3 linked regions of the Homo sapiens genome follow. The protein of the gene in region 2 purifies or fractionates together with the protein of the main gene of each other region. This does not show direct contact. Each region holds a gene or a part of one and is shown on either strand. Other genes may lie near its edges.

Region 1 (7,031 bases), on a different chromosome or scaffold from region 2:
GCAGCAGTGAAGCCCAGGATGGCACCAGAGGGCCAAGAGGTGGGACAGATCCATTGGATCTTAGAAGCATAAGAGGCCTCTCTCGGGCCACCAACCAGTGAGATATCTTTCCTCGGACATCTGTCAGATGACATCATCACAGTCAGTTTTTGCTTTGATTATTGTATCATAGAGAGTTTTTGACAAATTGAGTTCTGCATTAATTTTATCTTTGTAGTCTAGTGTAAGATTCATTGTGTATTTTGCATTTTAAAATCATTTCTTCTCTATCAGGGATCAGTATAAGAAATGGCATACTCTCGAATCCAGGCAAGGAATTTATTCCACCTAATCCATGGTCTAGTTCTGGCTTGTCTGGAAAATCTTCAGGGACAATGTCAGTAATCAGCAAAGTAAATTCAGGTGAGTAATGATCATTAACCCCTAAATGGCAAAAAGCAAATTCCCTGGATGCAGGAAGGTGGGCACAAGGAGTCATGGGACGGGCTTTGGAAGCACAGGGGCCTTTGTCATCTGAAAGCTCAGGCCTCTTTTCCAGCCCTATCCTCCTCTCTTTCTCGGCAGCAGTCCCTTGGGACTCAGCCAGCTCCCAGGGGAGTCTGCCTTCCAGGGTAGCTGGGGAGTAGAGCATAGTCATCCCTGGCTCAAGGGAAAAACAAAAATACCTTTACAGACTCTTACTAGGCCTGATGGCTAAAGCCCTGGCTGCAGCAGGCACCCTCCTCTTGAGGTGGAAGTCACCCTTGGCTGTGTCTGCCTTGTTCCAGCCTGTCCCCTCCTTCTGATGACCCAGCTGCAGGCCCAGAGTATCAAGATCCCTTCTAGTTGGAAGGTGGACAGTTTGGAAGACCCTCCCCACTTTTTTTGTTAAACGGATGAATGAATTTACTGAGTCCCAAGGCTGACAAACCCTGTTCACAGTAGAGACGTTTCCTGCATCATTTTTCCCTGATGCAGGCAGCCCCTGCCATGTGCTGCTTTCCCCTCTGCACTGCCAAGTGCACTGCCTTCATCCATTAGGTGTTTGTTTAATTTAAGGAAAATAAAAAAGAAAGAGATAATATAGCAACACCTGTGTAGCCATCACCCAGCTTAAGAAGTCAAACTTTGGCCAGGTGTGGTGGCTCATGCCTGTAATCCCAGCACTTTGGGAGGCTGAGGCTGAGGCAGGTGAATCACTTGAGGTCAGGAGTTTGAGACCAGCCTGGCCAACATGGTAAAACCCTGTCTCTACCTAAAATATAAAAATTAGCCAGGCATGGTGGCAGCAGGCCTGTAATCCCAGCTACTCAGGAGGCTGAGGCAGGATATCACTTGAACCTGGGAGGCGGAGGTTGCAGTGAGCCAAGATTGCGCCACTGCACTCCAACCTGGGTGATAGAGTGAGATTCTGTCTCAAAAAAAAAAAAAAAAGTTGAACTTGGCAAATACACATGAAGCCCAGTGTCTGTGCCTTTCCCGCCTCCCTGCTTCCCCTTACCTCCCCCCATGCCAGCCTGATCGAGTGTTTATTTAGGTTTGTATAAACTTCATAGTGTGGTTTTGCAGGTTTTAAAATTTATGTGAAGATAATCTTGGATCACTGCTTCATGCATTTTAATAAATATATGTGTAGCAATTATAGAGATATATATCATATATTATATAACATATACAATATATATCTATACAACACCATAACTTATTATTTATGTGGACCATAATTTATGTATGCCTTCTCTTCTTGATAAATACATAAGTTGATTGCAATTTTTGCTATTAGAAAGAGTGCTGAGATGATTATTGTACCCCTATTGTTATGCACATGTGTGAGGATTCCTCTGGGTACGAGAACTAGGAGTCAACATTTTATTTTATTTTATTTTATTTTATTTATTTATTTTTATTTATTTATTTATTTTAAGACGCAGTCTTGCTCTGTTGCCCAGGCTGGAGTGCAGTGGCATGATCTCGGCTCACTGCAACCTCTGCCTCCCTGGTTCAAGCAATTCTCCTGCCTCAGCCTCCCAAGTAGCTAGGATTACAGGCATGTGCCACCACACCCAGCTAATTTTTTTTTTTTTTTGTATTTTTAGTAGAAACAGGGTTTCACCATGTTGGCCAGGCTGGTCTCGAACTCCTGACCTCAGGTGATCCACCCGCCTGGGTCTCCCATTGTGCTGGGATTACAAGTGTGAGCCACCATGCCCAGCCAGAGTCAACATTTTAGGTTAAAGGGTGTGCTCATCTTCAACTTCACAGATATTGCCAAACTACTTGCTCTCCAGCGGGATATGGGAGTTGCTCTGCATCCTTGATGCCACTTGGTACTGTCAAGACTAAAATTTGTGCTAATCTGATGAGTGAGAAATGGTATCCTATTGTGGTTTAAACTTGCATGTCCTATTTACTAATGAGGTTCATCATCTTTTCTTGTGTTTATTGACTATAAGTTTTTTCTCTTTTGTGACTTACCTGTTCAAATTCTCTTCCCATTTTTCTTCATGTTTCTTCATTCACCAAAGTACAAAATACACCCCAGCTGACCAACGCAACTCCTCACGCAGGCATTCTAGACTGTGTTTCCACTCTGCCTTAAACAATTGCTGAAAAAGCTCTGTGTTGTGAAAACAGAGCAACTCTACTACTTACTGACTTTTCTTAATGGTTAGAATTTCCATTTCTATAACGGGCAATAATAACAGTCTTCATTATTCCATGTGTACCTTTAAGCCTAAATAATAAGAATTATATTCATTCACCCATCCAAAATTAATTGATTATCTGCTATATGCAAGGCATTCTGTTATCCTCCCCAGAATACCAAGACGAGTAGCATACAGTCCCTGCCCTTAAAGCACTCCCAAGTGGAAATGACATAAAAAGTTAAGGTATTTCACATTGTAAAAAATGGTTAATTTTTCTGATGTGGATAAGAATATTTAGTGTGTAATTACTTGTCACAGCTAAATAATTTAATATAACCTGTGTGTTGATCAATAAGAAAATGGTTAAATGGATTATGGTTTAGCCATACTCTAGAATTTATATGTACTCACATGGAAGGATAACTATTCTATATTATGGAGTGAAAAAAGCAAATTTTAGAATAGTCTAAATCTACTTTTACAAAAGAAAATAAAGAACAAATGTCATATTTCCCTTTTTTAAAAAAATTTCACAACCAACCCACCCTCTATTTGGTTGCCCCTCACAGGAGCAGCACTGTCTTTGGCCCCCGCAGTCTTTCTGACAGGGTAGTATGGTGGGATGCTTGGCTCTGAACTCATTTTTATCATGATTTGCTCTTTTCCCTAAAAGTAAAAACTTAGTTTGTTATTGCTCTGCAGTGCTGTCATTTAACCTTGTTGGTGTCCTGGGTACATGTCTTTGTAATAATGAGCTTTTTGCTTTTGCAAATCAGTTGGTTCCAGCTCTACAAGTTCTAGTGGACTGACTGGAAACTATGTCCCTTCCTTTCTGAAAAAAGAAATCGGTTCTGCTATGCAGAGGGTACACCTAGCACCTATTCCAGACCCTTCCCCTGGTGAGTTGTATTTTAAATTATTCATGAATTTACTCAACAAATGGTTACTCAACAACTGCTTTGTGCCAGGCATGTTTTAGGCCTGGGATCCACCAATAAATGAAACTTGCACTCTACAGACAATAAGTAAGCTAAATAAGTGCTATATAACATATAGTAAGTCAGATGCTTACTGACTTAGTGCTAAGGAGAAAAATACAGCAGACAGGAGGTAGGGATTGTGGGGGTTGGAGTGTGGGGTACAGGTTACAATTTTAGATAGAGTAGCTAAAGAAGAGCTCACTGCAAAGGAGTTGTTGAGTAGAGACCTGGAGGAGGTGATTGAGCAAGCATACAGTATGAGTGAGGCTTTTCCAGACAGGAGATTGTTCTGTGCTTGAGCTTTCAGGCAGAACTGGCCTGGCAAATTCAAGGAGCAGCAAGGAGGCCAGAGTGTGGGAGTGACAGGAGTGAGAGGGGGAGTAGCAAGATGAGGTCAGGGGTGATACGATGCCTGTAAGCACATTGTCATGGATTCTGAGTGACGTGGAGTCCCTGGAGGGCTTTGAGTCCATAAGTGAGGTGATCTGACAGCCATCTCCACAGGCTCCCTCAAGCTGCTGTTGTCATGAGACTGAAGTAGGGGCAAGGTAGGAAGCAGGGAATCCAATTAGGAGGATGTTGAAATTATCCAGGTAAGAAATGATGCTAGCTTGGGCCAGCGTGGTAGTAGTTCAGTTGGTAAAAAGTTGCCAGGTTCTGTAAATATTTGGAAGGTAGAACTAATAGGATATCCTGACAAATTATATGTGGTATATGAAAAAAAGAGGGGTCAAGAATGATGCCATTATTTTTGGCCTGACAACTTTAAAACGATGTCTTTAACTGCAGTAGAGAAGATTATAAGTAGGAGACAAGATGCTCCTCTTGAACTCCTTATTTTCTCATGTTTTTGTCACCAAAATGCATTTATTTGTACTTTGCTTACATTGGCCCCATATCAGTCATGCCGGCCTTTTTCTTTCATTGCAGGTTATTCCTCCCTGAAGGCCATGAGACCTCATCCTGGGCGACCATTCTTCCACACCCAGCCTAGAAGCACTCCTGGGTTGATACCACGGCCTCCAGCCGCCCAGCCAGTGCATGGCCGGACAGACTGGGCTTCCAAGTACGCATCTCGGCGATGACTGTCTGCCTTGGTGATGAATCTCTTCCTAGGGAGAAGCAGGATACTTTCCCTCAGCTGACTGGTGTTCTACCTGCAAGATGTGCAGAGGGCATAAAAGCAAATCAACACTTTATAGTTATTCTTCTGAACTAAGACATGTCAATATTCTTTTTTAAAGTTTTTTTTTAAAATATTGATTTGAATGCAGTAGGCTTTTTTGTATAAAATTATTTTATTCTAAAACTGGGTCCCATTATTTTCTTAAACAACAGCATTTTGTATATATGGATTATGTTTTAGCATTTTATACAGTCAACTTTGTAATGAACTTTTTAAAAATTAATTGATTTTCCTTTGGGGTTCCAGATAATATTTTCTACAGATTTTGAAAAATGTAATAATATTAATGCAGTATTGCAACAGGGGTGCAATTTAAGGCTATGTGATAGAGGGTTATTTACTCAGTGTGTGCAGATATTTATGAAGTGGTGAAATTTCAAGTGTGGCTCACTAGGTACTTCAGGCCTTCTTGGACTGTTGTTAGAAAAGTGATCCTCTGCTTTTCTTAGTAGGTCATTGGTTTGATTTTTGGATACCACTCTGCTGTTCTAAAAGGACTATTATATTATATAATTCACTTTGTTTTACTTTTGTTCCCCAGATGAAAGAACTCTAAGTAAATACATTTTAAAAAATTTTTCTGACACCCTTTAATGTGGTTGCAGATCTCAGATGAAACCAAGCTTAATTATACTATGCCATTATATTCTAATTTATTCCATTTTTGAAATCAAGTTGTATGTGTACCAATAAAAGAGATTTCTGCTTCAAAAGGCTCTCAACATGAAGGTTAACACAGTCAATCAAACTTACATTCCTGCCAAGATGCATGGCCAAAAAACTAAGTATCAAAGCAGCAGAAGGTTTTTGATTATAGTAACTGAGATGGAATTTTGTGCCTAGCTCAGTTCTCCAGATCTGGCTAGGAGCAGTCAATGACTAATGTTCTGTCCTAGCCAAATTCTCAGGACAATTTGGGGAGCAGAAAGAGTTATGGCAGAGGTTCCACTCATCTACAAAGTCACAGTCACATGCCACATTTGATCTCCTAACCCTGGTGTAGTTTCTTTCAAGAGTGAGAACTTTATTTGTTGGGCAGAGGCTGTTCCATTGAGAGGAATGTTTACAGCAGTTTCAAAAATGACAAAGTCAGTTTGGAGACAGAAAAAGACAAAAGGTCCAGTCTCATCCATCTCTATATGGTACATTTGCCTCACTTATGGTTGCCTTAAAGGCAAGAGGGAAGGTCACCATCAGTGAACGCAATGCAATCTCAACAGTGTATTGATTCATATTCTCCTAGGGCTCAAACTACTCTCTATTGGTTCCAGGATAATGACAAATTGAACCATATGTAAGTAATCTTTTATTTTTTATTTTTTTTTTGAGACAGAGTCTCACTCTGTCACCCAGGCTGGAGTGCAGTGGCGCGATCTTAGCTCTCTGCAACCTCTGCCTCCCAGGTTCAAGCCTCCTGAGTAACTGGGACTACAGGCGCCCGCCACCACGCCCAGCTAATTTTTTGTATTTTTAGTAGAGACGGGGTTTCACTGTGTTAGCCAGGACGGCCTCGATCTCCTGACCTCGTGATCCACCCTCCTCCACCTCCCAAAGTACTGGGATTACAGGCATGAGCCACTGCACCCAGCCAAGTGATCATTTTTATAGGTTAAAATGATAGGTGAAATGAATATAGACACTTTCATATGGTTCAACCTAATGACTTGGTAAATTATTGCCTTGGTGTATTAATAATATGTTGCATTCTGAACAAATAACCATGGCTTCCAAAGGGCCCTAACCTAAAATCGGAGAGTAATTTATGCTTTGGAGAATTTGACTCAAATATATACTTGACCAAGCACCATGATCCCTAGGGGCATGAGAAAAGCACATAATGGATGTGGATGTGATAGGTGGTCTTTTCCTGTTAACAAGCTGGCAGCAAAGCTTCAGAAAATATATATGCAAGCACAACTTGAAGCTGAATTCATTTCTGTATTATATTCTCAACTCGTTATCTAAAGCATCAGAACATGTGTTTTCAGAGATGAGTCCTTTACTATAAGGTTAATATTTATTTTCATTTTCTGTATTATATATGAAAAGTAAATTAATGTGAAACCTGGCCCAGCTTGCTGGAAAGCAGGTTTTAAATTGTAAATATTCCTTAGAGGAGCAAATGGATTGTTTAATACCATAGTCTCAGTAATCTAGCTTATATAAGGTCATTACATTTTTTAACTGAAAAACCTAGTTACCTGATTATTGCACATTATAAAATTGTTTTTCTAATAC
Region 2 (5,823 bases):
ATTTAAGGTACAGGTTTGTATGTGCAATACTTTTATATATTAAAATTTCACTCAGCTCAGAATCGCCACCAATCAGTGATTAAACTGCAAAACTTGCATGTTTATTTGATATTTACACTTAATTTAAAATAGGTGTATAAAATAAAACTGTTTTTACTTCTGAATGTTATTAAATGCTTTTGATGGTAACAATTCCAGAGTTCTACGACTGATTTTTTCCAAACTAATGTTTTTTTTTTAAAGTACACACGAAAGTATGAAACAAGCACTTTGAGAAATGTTAATGTTTTTCCTAAATGCTAATATTTGATATAAAATGGAAACTGTGCATTCTCTTTTGTCACATGCATTATATAATGTATCTCAAATAGAGTATTATATGGGAAAATGTTCTGTAAAATTACTTATGCTTTAAGGAGTTTGGAAGCTGACATTTTCTAATGCCTACTAATAGCTGAGACAAAAAAAAGTACAACTAGAAGATTCTTTTTGTTTGTTTAATTATAGCCAGACCATTTTTTGTCATATGTGGTAAGAATTGCAGTTTTATTTTCTCACAGCAATATGAATGCTGGCCCATCTTGGAATAAAGTGCAACATTCAAAGAATTCTTCAGGAAAAAGGCAGAGTAAATCCCAAGTACCCCACGCTTCTTCCCAGCCGAGAAGCAGCCTCACAGCTGTCACCCAGCCTACTGAAGAAAAACTTAAAGAAAGCATTTCCCCGGAAGCAAGACGCAAAAGGAATCCACTCGGTTCCAGGTGTCAGGGGGCCTCAGGGAATAAACTGTTTCTTGATTTTCAGTCAATGAAAATTATTAAAGAGAATGCTGATGAGGACAGTGCAAGTGATCTCTCTGATTCGGAAAGAATTCCCATTCCTCCTTCTCCCCTCACACCTCCAGATCTCAATCTTCGAGCTGAAGAAATTGATCCAGTTTACTTTGATCTTCACCCTGGTCAGGGCCATACAAAACCTGAATACTATTATCCTAATTTCCTTCCATCCCCTTTCAGCTCCTGGGACCTACGAGATATGGCCCTGCTTCTGAACGCAGAGAACAAAACGGAAGCCGTGCCCCGAGTGGGAGGACTTCTTGGGAAGTATATCGATAGACTTATTCAGCTTGAGTGGCTGCAAGTCCAGACTGTACAGTGTGAAAAAGCAAAGGGGGGCAAAGCAAGGCCCCCCACTGCCCCTGGGACCTCAGGGGCACTGAAAAGCCCTGGGAGAAGTAAGCTAATTGCTAGTGCTCTGTCCAAGCCACTACCTCACCAGGAAGGGGCTTCAAAGTCAGGCCCTTCCCGAAAGAAAGCTTTTCACCATGAAGAAATCCACCCATCACATTATGCATTTGAGACTTCCCCTAGACCCATTGATGTGCTTGGTGGTACCAGGTTTTGTTCTCAGAGGCAAACCCTTGAAATGAGGACAGAAGAAAAGAAAAAGAAATCAAGTAAGAGTACGAAGCTGCAGCGCTGGGATCTGTCCGGCAGTGGAAGCAGCTCTAAGGTGGAAACCAGCGGTCACATTCGAGTTCCCAAACAGGCAGCTGTGATTCTGGACTCAGCAGATTCCTGTAAGGCCTCCAAAACACAAGCACATGCACATCCTAGGAAAAAGGGAAAGGCAGAGAGCTGTGGTCATGCCACTGTATCGAGTGAGAAAAAACTGAAAACAAACGGAGTAAAGCAAAACACATATAAACTAAAATAAATATCTAAAATGCTGAATTGCCAAGACCTGCAGGTACCTCAATGTTAGAGCGCTTCCAAAAGTCAAAATACTGTGAATTTTAAGGAATTTTACAAATACTGACATTTAAGTAGTTGACTGGCATTTTTGTCCACCTTTATTTCTACCCTGAGTGGGGTTATTTTCAAAGGGAAGTGTCTTTCAATAAGCCTTTCTTTGTATTGTCAGTCTTAGGCAAATGAGAGCCCTTTAGATAAAAATTATGTAAAATATGTGCCATATAAAGGAATAAAATGGCACCTCTCCAGGGAAAGTGTCAGTGAAACCTCAGCTACAGTAGCCGGTCTGTGTAGAGCAGCTAGTGGTGTTACCTCCCCATTTTCACATGCACGTAAGTATATGAAATAGTGCAGACTGTTTCAAATGGTGTGGAATCCTAAATGTTTAAAATAAGGTCCTTCTTGCCCACTCCCTCGCTTACTTTTTTATAAACTCCTCAAGCAAAATTTCTGTTCATTTTACCCTTAGGAGAAGCTTTAGTTCTTCCTCAAGTCAGGGAGTAGTGAGTTTGTATTTTGAGTAGTCATTTCTCACTAAGCTGGTTGCTTTCTAGAGAGACAGTGGAATCTAGTACTTTAATACATTTTCTCTGACATGGTTTTTTTTTTCTTTTTTGAGGGGCATTTTAAACTTAGAGGTGGTGGTAAAACCTACTTTTGAGTTCTCCGAACTGAGGTTAAAATAACTTGCAGAATTTTCCAAAGTCAATGGGCTTAGCATGATTACTGCTGTTTGGTGGGGCTGAGAATGAAATATTTGACATTCTGGAATTGCTGGCATGTAAAGCTTCTCCAGAGAGGCACCCCAGGGAAATCACTCTTTACAATTTGTAAAGGAAGGGCCTGTAAAAGGATCAAAACACATGGACCTACATTCAGTGTAATAGTTACAAAGTTACTGATTTGGGTTCCACACCCTGTGGTCCTTAGTCAAAAATAATGATCTGTTTCAGTTTGCAAGAGCAGGATTTTATTATTTTGCTTGGGGTGAGGGGCGGGAGAGTGGAATATGAGTAAGGTTGCTGAATGAATTCTAAACTCGCTTATCTGGTCTTCAGGCTTCCCAACTCTCTCCAAGCCTTCTTATTTCACTGCAGTTAAATAACATCTTCTTGTTCCTATAGTTGTGCTGTGAGTTTTCTGTTCATATTTGCGCAGTGTATTTTAATACGGCCCATGTCATTATAGTTGATTTTATCCCTTTAAACAATTACTGTATTTGTTTTTGACGTAGAGGTTTCAATTTTTTCACCTTGGGGGCAAATGAAAAACTTGGCATTTTTCATTTGGGAACATATAATAGCTTGTAAACTTTTCAGACAGCAGTAAATGTCTGAAAAAATATCAAAAACAGCATAAAGACAAGATTATGTAGCTCTAATTATACGTATATAATTATAAAAAACAATGTGCAAGGGTTATATTTTAAGGTCTTTTAAAATCTGATTTTGATCATACCAAATGACATAATATTTTTTATGGTAGCCTTTTACTTTCAAGACTTAATTTTCAGACTTGTACAAGTTCCTTCTTACATTCTTTCCCTCTCACACCATCCTACTGGAGAAAGCATACTTTTATGCTAAGATCTTACTTTAAGCTTTTTATGTGAACAAAAGATGTACATATAGTAAGTATTACTTCCGTAGTCCTCAAATTTACTATAACTTTTGTACTTAGTATATGTTTTATATTTGGAAAACAGCACTACGCTTAGTTTTCCTGTAGTTCCTGAGTGATGTCTGTGTGTTCCTTGCCTGCCCTTTTTTGTGAGCACAGATTAGTCTGTTATCCATGGCTGGCACTTCACTTATGATCCTTTCTCTGCTAGATTTTTATGCAGCTCTCTATGAAGTTTCATGGCCCATAGATATTCAAAAGCAAGATATTCTATACATATGTGTATATGTATATATACTCCTTATGTTAATACTAAAGTGTTTATGCTGAGTTGCTGCCTTTCCCCGTCATGTATCCATGTGCATGCTCTTAGAGACCTTGAATGGTTGAGGGTAAAGTGATTTATTAGTAATTCTACTTGCCTTGTGTATGTCTGAGCTGAAAACAATCGTGATTAAGAAATTTAGAGGTGGCTGGGCGTGGTGGCTCACGCCTGTAATCCCAGCACTTTGGGAGGCCGAGGCAGGCGGATCACCTGAGGTCGGGAGTTCAAGACCAGCCTGACCAACATGGAGAAACCCTGTCTCCACTAAAAATACAAAATTAGCCGGGTGTGGTGGTGCATGCCTGTAATCCCAGCTACTCGGAAGTTTGAGACGAGAATCTCTTGAACCCGGGAGGCGGAGGTTGTGGTGAGCCAAGATCGTGCCATTGCACTCCAGCCTGGGCAACAAGAGGGAAACTCCGTTTCAAAAAAAAAAGAAAAAGAAAGAAATTGAGAAGTAACGCCTCATAATATTTGTTCCCAGCTTTTTAAATTGAAGCTGGTTGCATAATCTGGGGAATAGTCATAATTTCATGTGTTATACAGTTTAAAAAGCCTGCAAAAGTGACTTTGCTTGTTTACTTTCTGCCTCAGATTGACTATTTTAACCAATATTGTCACGACTAGATCATAGCTCCTAGTGAATAACATGAGGTGTTTTAAAGTTAGGTCTATTACAGAATTAACATAAGCACAATTTTAATTTTATGATATCTGATATGCCTATCTAATACATCTTAATGCATTAAATGCTGCAGATAAGAATCTTGCTATTTTTCAAGTAGACAACATTAGAAAGTTGAATCATGAACTCATTCAATTCATCAAGTCAAAAGCACTGAGTGTTTTGCTAGTCTAGTGACATGGGTTATTGTATTTCCGAGAAGTGCCTCTCATTTCTGGGGAGTTGTTTACATATACCCTGCATTTAAACCAATTAAAACAATCCAAGTTTCTTTAAAAAAAAAAAGAAAAAGAAAAAGAAAAAGAAAAATATTTTAGGCTTAGAATTATCTAATGGAAAAAATGTAAAAAAGTACAAAAATGAACTAAAAGTATATCAGTATTTGCAGTATTTGCTGTGATTACTTAGGTTTAGACTTTCTCAACTTCTTAGATGACTAAATGGGCTGAAGACTTGTAACTAACTTGAATAGGATAGACTTCATACCCTGTGACAAAAAGGATGGGGAAGAGAATATCATTGGTCTTGCCATATACCTCCTAGCTAAAAGGAAAATGGTTTGTAGTTGTTCTTGGGCCTACTGTGTTGCTTTTCAGAAGGACATAAGACTTTCTACTTTATCTGATATGGATATCGTCTACTTCCTCATTCCTTTATGCTCACTTATGGAGTAGTTACATAGAAATATAACTCTTGGTGGTACTGTATTTTAAGGTAATTCAGAAGCAGTATGTATTATTTATGTACATGTACAGGACACCATTCAAAATGGCTTGAAAATATTCAGCATGTTTGTTATTTGCTGTTATATTGTATGTTTAGTTTTGTATGTGATAAACAGAATTGATGTAAGTTTTTGTGGACTTGAATTTCTCCTTCCTTGAGATCAATTAAACAGCAGAAAAATATTGTCTGGATTTTTCTGGTATTGTTTTGTTTTGCTTTTCATGCAGTTCTCTTCTGAAGCTTGCCTTTATTTTCTCCCTGGTTATTTAAAGGAATTGCCCAGGATGAAATGCTGTTACAACTCCTGTCTTAACACTAAGCGACATGGGTGGCCAAAGCACAGGTTAACATTACCGGATATATCAGAGAAGCATTGCAGTACATTTCTTGAGTCGCTCTTCCACTTACTACTCCATGTTGAGGATTAATTAGGGTAGCAGGATGCAAATTCAGTAAGCATAAATTAAGGTAACCTGTGATGTAATGAACTTGCACCTTTATGTACATATCCGGAAACGAGTACCATCTCTTTCAAGGAAGTGGCCTGGTTAGGAGATAGCAGTTTTGAGCAGCTCCAGCTGCAAACATTCTCAAAAGCCCTTTGCTCTTCTTTCTAACTTCACTCTGACAATAGGGTGCATTCTTTTGAGTCTACCAAATTGTGGCAGTAATGTTCAGTGGCTTAAAAAGTAAGTTTTTGGATATGTTTTGAA
Region 3 (7,031 bases), on a different chromosome or scaffold from region 2:
AATTGATTGAAGTAATGTTCGTGCCTGTTAATTTTTCCCGACAGCAGCTCTTCCTCCTCTTCCTCGCGGGCCTTCTTCATTTCCTCCTTGGCCTGTATGGCATCCATCTCCCTTTCTGGACCCTGGAGAAAGAAAGAAAAAACATAAGCCCCACCGGGTGCGATGGCTCGTGCCTGTAATCCCAGCACTTTGGGAGGCCGAGGCAGATGGATCACGAAGTCAGGAGATCGAGACCATCCCGGCTAACACGGTGAAACACAGTCTCTACCAAAAATACAAAAAAAAAAAAGCCAGGCGTGGTGGTGGGCGCCTGTAGTCCCAGCTACTCGGGAGGCTGAGGCAGGAGAATGGCCTAAACCTGGGAGGCAGAGCTTGCAGTGAGCTGAGATCACTCTACTGCACTCCATCCTGGGCGACAGAGCAAGACTCTGTCTCAAAAAAAAAAAAAAAGCAAAAATTAGCTGGGCGTGGTGGTGTGTGGCTGTAGTCCCAGCTGCTCGGGAGGCTGAGGTGAGAGGATCATTTGAACCTAGGAGGCGGAGGTTGCAGTGAGTCGAGATGGCACCACTGCACTCCAGCCTGGGTGACAGAGCAAAACCCGTCTCAAAACAAAACAAAACAAAACAAAACAAAAAAAGCCCCAGAGGCCAGGGGTTATGCTTCCATGTGGCCAAATGCATGTCAGTACTCAGGCAGACCCTGCCTTCTAGAAGCCTCCTCACCACCTAGGATAGGCTGAATAAGAAGAACCTGTAAAGATTGCATGTCCTGGCTGGGCGCGGTGGCTCACACCTGTAATCCCAGCACTTTGGGAGGCCGAGGCAGGCAGATCATGAGGTCAAGAGAGCGAGACCATCCTGGCCAATATGGTGAAACCCCGTCTCTACTAAAAATACAAAAATTAGTTGGGTGTGGTGGCAGGTGCCTGTAGTCCCAGCTACTCGGGAGGCTGAGGCAGGAGAATCGCTTGAACCGGGAGGTGGAGGTTGCAGTGCGCCGAGATCACGCCACTGTACTTCAGCCTGGCGACAGAGCGAGACTCCGTCTCAAAAAAAAAAAAAAAAAAAAAAAATTCATGTCCTAATCCCTGGAACCTGCCAATATTAACCTTACATGGGGCCAGGCACAGTGGCTCACTCCTGTAATCCCAGCACTTTGGGAGGCCAAGGCAGGTGGATCACCTGAGGTCAGGACTTCGAGACCAGCCTGAACAATATGGTGAAACCCCCTCTCTACTAAAAATACACAAATTAGCCGGACGTGGTGGCATGCGCCTGTAGTCCCAGCTACTTGGGAGTCTGAGGCAGGAGAATCGCTTGAACCCGGGAGGTGGAGGTTGCAGTGAGCCGAGACTATGCCACTACATTACAGCCTGGGTGACAGAGCTAGACTCCATCTAAAAAAAAAAAATTTACACAAATGAAATAGTGATGTAGGAAGAGTTAATCACGTGCTTCATACCTTGGTTTCGCCCCAGGTGGCCTTGCCAAAATTATCTGCGTACTCTTCATCATCTGTGATCAGAAAGTTATCAAAAATGGTTCCAGATCTCACCTGCAGATGAAAATAAGGCCTTCATTATTATGCTTTTATTCTTTATTATTTGTTTATTTTTCATTTCTTTTTTCCTTTGGAAATACATGAAGCTCAGGTGACATTTTTTATTTTTTAGAGATGGGGTCTTGCTATGTTGCCTAGGCTGGATTTGAACTTCTGGGCTTGGCCAGGCGTGGTGGTTCACACCTATAATCCCAGCACTTTGGGAGGCTGGGGCAGGTGAATCACTTGAGGTCAGGAGTTCAAGACTAGCCTGGCCAACACGGTGAACCCCATCTCTATTAAAAATACAAAAATTACCAGGTGTGGTCGTGCATGCCTGTAGTCCCAGCTACTTGGGAGGCTGAGGTGGGAGGATCGCTTGAACCCGGGAAGCAGAAGCTGCAGTGAGTTGAGATCGTGCCACTGCACTCCCGCCTGGGTGACAGAGTGAGACTCAGTCTCAAAGAAAAAAAAAAAAGAACTGGGCTCATGTGATGGTCCCACTTCAGCCTCCCCAGTAGCTGGGACTATTACAGGCGTGAGCCATACTGTCCCTGGCTACTAGGCCTTCATTATTGATGTGACATATGTAACAACTTTTCAAAAAGAAACAGTTGTATTTTGCTCAGTAGTGTATACTATAACAGCAATTAGAATAGTAGGTGGTGCTTAAACCCATTTCTAGAATATCCTTTCCCTCTAAGGCACTGGTTCCTTAAACGTGGCTGCACATCGGGATCACCAAAACTTTTTTTTTTTTTGAGACTTAGTCTCGCTCTGTTTTTTTTTTTTTTTTTTTTGAGATGAAGTGAAGTCTCACTCTGTTGCGGAGGCTGGAGTGCCGTGGCGCGATCTTGGCTCACTGCAACCTCCACTTCCTGGGTTCAAGTGATTCCTCCCAGGATTAAGTTATTCTCATGCCTCACCCTCCTGAGTAGCTGGGACTACAAGCACGCACCACCACACCCAGCTAATTTTTGTATTTTTAGTAGAGACGAAGTTTCACTATGTTGCCCAGGCTGCTCTCAAACGCCTGAGCTCAGGCAATCTGCCCCCCTCAGCCTCCCAAAGTGCTGGGATTACAGGCATGAGCCACTGAGCCCAGCTGGGATCACCAAAGCATTAAAACAAAAAAACAAACAAAACTCTCAGCACTTTGGAAGGCTGAGGTGGAAGGACTGCTTGAGCCTAGAAGTTCTGAGACTCCCATCTCTTTTTTTTTTTTTTTTTTTTGAGACGGAGTCTTGCTCTGTCACCCAGACTGGAGTGCAGTGGCCCGATCTCAGCTCACTGCAAGCTCTGCCTCCCGGGTTCACGCCATTCTCCTGCCTCAGCGTCCCGAGTAGCTGGGACTACAGGCGCCCGCCACCACGCCCGGCTAATTTTTTTTGTATTTTTAGTAGAGACGGGGTTTCACCATGTTAGCCAGGATGGTCTCGATCTCCTGACCTTGTGATCCACCCGCCTCAGCCTCCCAAAGTGCTGGGATTACAGGAGTGAGCCACCGCGCACAGCCTAGACTCCCATTTCTTAAAAAAAAAAAATCTGGATGTGGTGGCTTGTGCCTGTAGTCCTAGCTACTTGGGAGGCTGAGGTGGGAGGATCGCTTGGGCCTAGTTTGAGGCTACAGTGAGCTAGGATGGTGCCACTGCACTCCAGCCTAGGTGACAGAATGAGACCCTGTCTCAACAAAACAAAACAAAACAAAACAAAACACACACACGCAAAAAATCTAAAGTAAAGTTAAAACCAAATGACCTGCCAAAGCTCCAGGCCAATGGCACCAATGTTCTCAAATTCTGAGAGGTCATACTGCGTCAAATAGTCGGTATTCTTCATCTTACGGTGGAGCCAGACGTCTTTATGAATACCTTCTGGTTTCAGGCCATCCTGTATCAAAAAAACCATATGGGGTGGTCTCAATGACATGGGCAGCGGAGGGGCAGCCCTGGGGCATCCCTGGCATCATACAAAGAGGCCACACACCTGGTACGGGGGCTTCTGGAGCATCGGCGCTGGCCAGTCCCCATCCAGGTCACCGTTCCAGTCGCTCTGCTTGCTGGTGCTGGCGTCCAGAAAATGCTTCTCCCAGTCCTTCAAAGACATGTAAGGAAAAAGTAAAATCAGTCAGATGCTCATATATTTGTTGTTGTTGCTTCTGTTTTTGTTTCTTGAGACTAGGTTTTGCTCTCACCCAGGCTGGAGTGCGGTTGTGCAATCATGGCTCACTGCAGCCTCAACCTCTTGGGCTCCAGTGATCCTCCTGCCTCAGCCTCCCAAGTAGCTCGGACTACAGGCGCCCGCCATCATACCTGGCTACTATTTTTATGTTTTGTACAGTCAGGGTCTCCCTCTGTTGCCCAGGCTGGTCTCGAACTCCTGGGTTCAAGCGATCCTCCTGCCTTGACCTCTGGAAGTGCTGGTATTACAGGCATTAGCCACCACACCCAGCCAGATGCTCAGATTTGAGAAAGGAAATTATTAGATGCCAAGTGGCAGGCACAGGCTGGTGACCCCTGTCCCAGTGTCCCTCTCCCTTCTTCAGTTTGGTGGTCAGGAGGCCAAGTGCTTGGTGCTTCCAATCCCACTGAGGACTTCAGGGCAACACCACACTGCCTAGATTTTTCTCCCTAACCTGCCATATGACTTTAGCCCTTTCCTGCATGCTATGGAGAGGAGCAGCGGTGTGGAAACCTCAAGTAGTGGCTAGAGTGAAAAATGATGGTGCAAAAAGTGATGGTGATGGCCAGATGTGGTGGCTCACACCTGTAATCCCAGCACTTTGGGAGGCCAAGGCAGGCAAATCACTTGAGGTCGGGAGTTCGAGACTAGCCTGGCCAACATGGTGAAACCCCATCTCTACTAAAAATACAAAAATTAGCCAGGGATGGTGGCGGGTGCCTGTAATCCCAGGTATTCGGGAGGCTGAGGCAGGAGAATCACTTGAACCTGGGAGGCGGAGGTTGCCGTGAGCTGAGATCACGCCACTGCACTCCAGCCTGGGCAAGAAGAACGAAACTCTGTCTCAAAAAATAAATAAATAAGTAAATAAATAAATGTTTTACGATACCTTCAGATGTGTAGAGATGTGGCTGGTCTGCAGTGTGTGCTCTGGGGAGGGCATTTGGTTCTATAATATTGCCATCGTGGCTACCAGCCATGCAGCAATTGTCCAGTAACTGGGTACTTACAAACTACATTTGTGCACTTTTTAGAGTTGCCCAGGAAAAATTCACACCTGGGCTTTGTTGTCTTTAGTCTGTTCCCAATCCTTCGATTCTGCCGGGGACGTTTCCTTCTTGAGTGATGTTAAGTTCCAGTCGTACTCTATGCTGCCGGATTCAATTGACTGACCATCAATTTTCACATCATAAGAAAGATCTGGTCTTAAAATTAGAGTGTACAGGTGTGTGAAGCCATCAACCTGCATATTTTAGGGGGAAAAGCGTAACAATTAAATCCTCAATTTCTTTTTTCTTTTCTTTTCTTTTTTTTTTTTTTTTTGAGATGGAGTCTCACTCTGTCGCCCAGGTTGGAGCGCTGTGGCACAATCTCGGCTCACTACAACCTCCACCTCCTGAGTTCAAGCGATTCTACTGCCTCAGCCTCCTGAGAAGCTGGGATTACAGGCACCTGCCACCATGCCTGGGTAATTTTTTGTGTCTAGTAGAGACAGAGTTTCACCATGTTGACCAGGCTGGTCTCGAACTCCTGACCTCAGGTGATCCACCTGCCTCAGCCTCCCAAAGTGCTGGGATTACAGGCATGAGCCACCACGCCCGGCCAACTCTCGATGTTTTAATGCAAGTCTAAATATGCAGTTTATTTTTATTTTTATTTTTTTGAGACAGGGTCTTGCTCTGTCACCCAGGCTGGAGTGCAGTGGTGCAATCAGAGCTCACTACAACCTTGACCTCCCAGGCTCAAGTGACCCTCCCACCTCAGCCTCCCCAGTAGCTGGGACCACAGGTTCCTGGCACTACACCTGGCTAATTTTTGTATTTTTTGTCATGACAAGATTTCGCCATGTTGCCCAGGCTGGTCTTGAACTCCTTGGCTCAAGCAGTCCTCCTGCCTCAGCTTCCCAAACTGCTGGGATTACAGGTGTGAGCCACTGCACCCAGACATTTCTCCAGAATGTTTTTTTCATCCTGAATATTTCATTCATTAATGAGGATGGATGTGGCTGAAATGTGACTGTACTATTGTAACCCTCATAGGGCAAATGATGACATGTCATAGCTCACAGTAAAAAATGAGAGTGCCCTCCTGATGGGGTAAAAACTTCAGGAAACCAGTTAAAGGAGAGAAGTATCTCCAATGGGCCCCCTAAACTGGAAACTGGAAACAGGAGGTATGTCTACAAAGACCCATCCCTGGCTCAGTTAAGTATTTTATTATCAAAACTATTTTTTCTAAACTTAGTCTGGCAGGAGTTAACACTCATTTATTTGAATACAAGAGCAGTTACCTTACACCTGATCAGTTTCTTGTTTTCGTGATACTTATTCTTGAAATGTAAAATAACATGAACTTTCTTGATATCAAATCCACAAATATCGGGTCCTACAAAAAAGATTAGCTGCTCTCAATTTCTTTCCATAATGCATCACCGTAGAATAACCAACCCACAACCATTCTTTTTTTTTTTTTGAGACGGAGTCTTGCTGTCACCCAGGCTGGAGTGCAGTGATCTTGGCTCACGGAAACTTCTGCCTCTTGGGTTCAAGCAATTCTCCTGCCTCAGCCTCCTGAGTAGCTGGGACTACAGGCGCATGCCACGATGCCCAGCTAATTTTTGTATTTTTAGTAGAGATGGGGTTTCACCATGCTGGCCAGGCTGGTCTCAAACTCCTGACCTTGTGATCCACCTGCCTCGGCCTCCCAAAGTCCTAGGATTACAGGCTTGAAACACCACGTGCAGTCCATTCTTCTTACATATAATCAGATATTCACACTAAGATATTTATTTATTTATTTGAGACAGAGTCTCACTCTGTCGCCCAGGCTGGAGTGCAGTGGTGGGATCTTGGCTCACTGCAGTCTCCGCCTCCCGGGTTTAAGTGATTCTCCTGCATCAACCTCCCGAGTAGAATAGCTGTGATTACAGGCATGTACCACCAGGCCCAGCTAATTTTTGTGTTTTTAGTAGAGACAGGTTTTGCCATGTTGGCTAGGCTGGTCTCAAACTCCTGACCTCAAGTGATTTGCCTGCCTTGGCCTCCCAAAGTGCTGAGATTATAGGTGTGAGCCACTGCATCTGGTCACATGTGTGAATATCTTATTATTGTTGTTAAAGGACAATGTCCTGGCTTTCCACTCACTTTTGAGTGTGTTCTGAAGCTTATTTAAATATTCAAAGTGGCCTGCTAATCCCAGCACTTTAGGAGGCCAAGGTGGGGAGATGACTTGAGGCCAGTTTGAGACCAGCCTGGCCAACATGGTAAAACCCCGTGTGTACTAAAAATACAAAAATTAGCTGGGAGTGGTGG

The links.
Region 1: the proteins of FAM217B (region 2) and CILK1 purify together in Homo sapiens (affinity purification with mass spectrometry; 3 studies listed by BioGRID and IntAct, with this or other methods). This does not show direct contact.
Region 3: the proteins of FAM217B (region 2) and CALR3 purify together in Homo sapiens (affinity purification with mass spectrometry; 3 studies listed by BioGRID and IntAct, with this or other methods). This does not show direct contact.

What each region holds. Positions count from the first base shown.
Region 1 is NC_000006.12:53,002,810-53,009,840, reverse strand, and holds part of CILK1 (serine/threonine-protein kinase ICK), read left to right. Parts: intron 1-273; coding exon 274-402; intron 403-2,241; exon of another isoform or gene 2,242-2,352; intron 2,353-3,403; coding exon 3,404-3,526; intron 3,527-4,537; coding exon 4,538-4,692; 3' UTR 4,693-7,031.
Region 2 is NC_000020.11:59,943,380-59,949,202, forward strand, and holds the end of FAM217B (protein FAM217B), read left to right. Parts: intron 1-560; 5' UTR 561-564; coding exon 565-1,716; 3' UTR 1,717-5,301; downstream 5,302-5,823.
Region 3 is NC_000019.10:16,479,153-16,486,183, forward strand, and holds part of CALR3 (calreticulin-3 precursor), read right to left. Parts: intron 6,106-7,031; coding exon 6,011-6,105; intron 4,964-6,010; coding exon 4,778-4,963; intron 3,634-4,777; coding exon 3,526-3,633; intron 3,430-3,525; coding exon 3,298-3,429; intron 1,555-3,297; coding exon 1,462-1,554; intron 123-1,461; coding exon 1-122. UniProt on the Homo sapiens protein: During spermatogenesis, may act as a lectin-independent chaperone for specific client proteins such as ADAM3. Required for sperm fertility. CALR3 capacity for calcium-binding may be absent or much lower than that of CALR.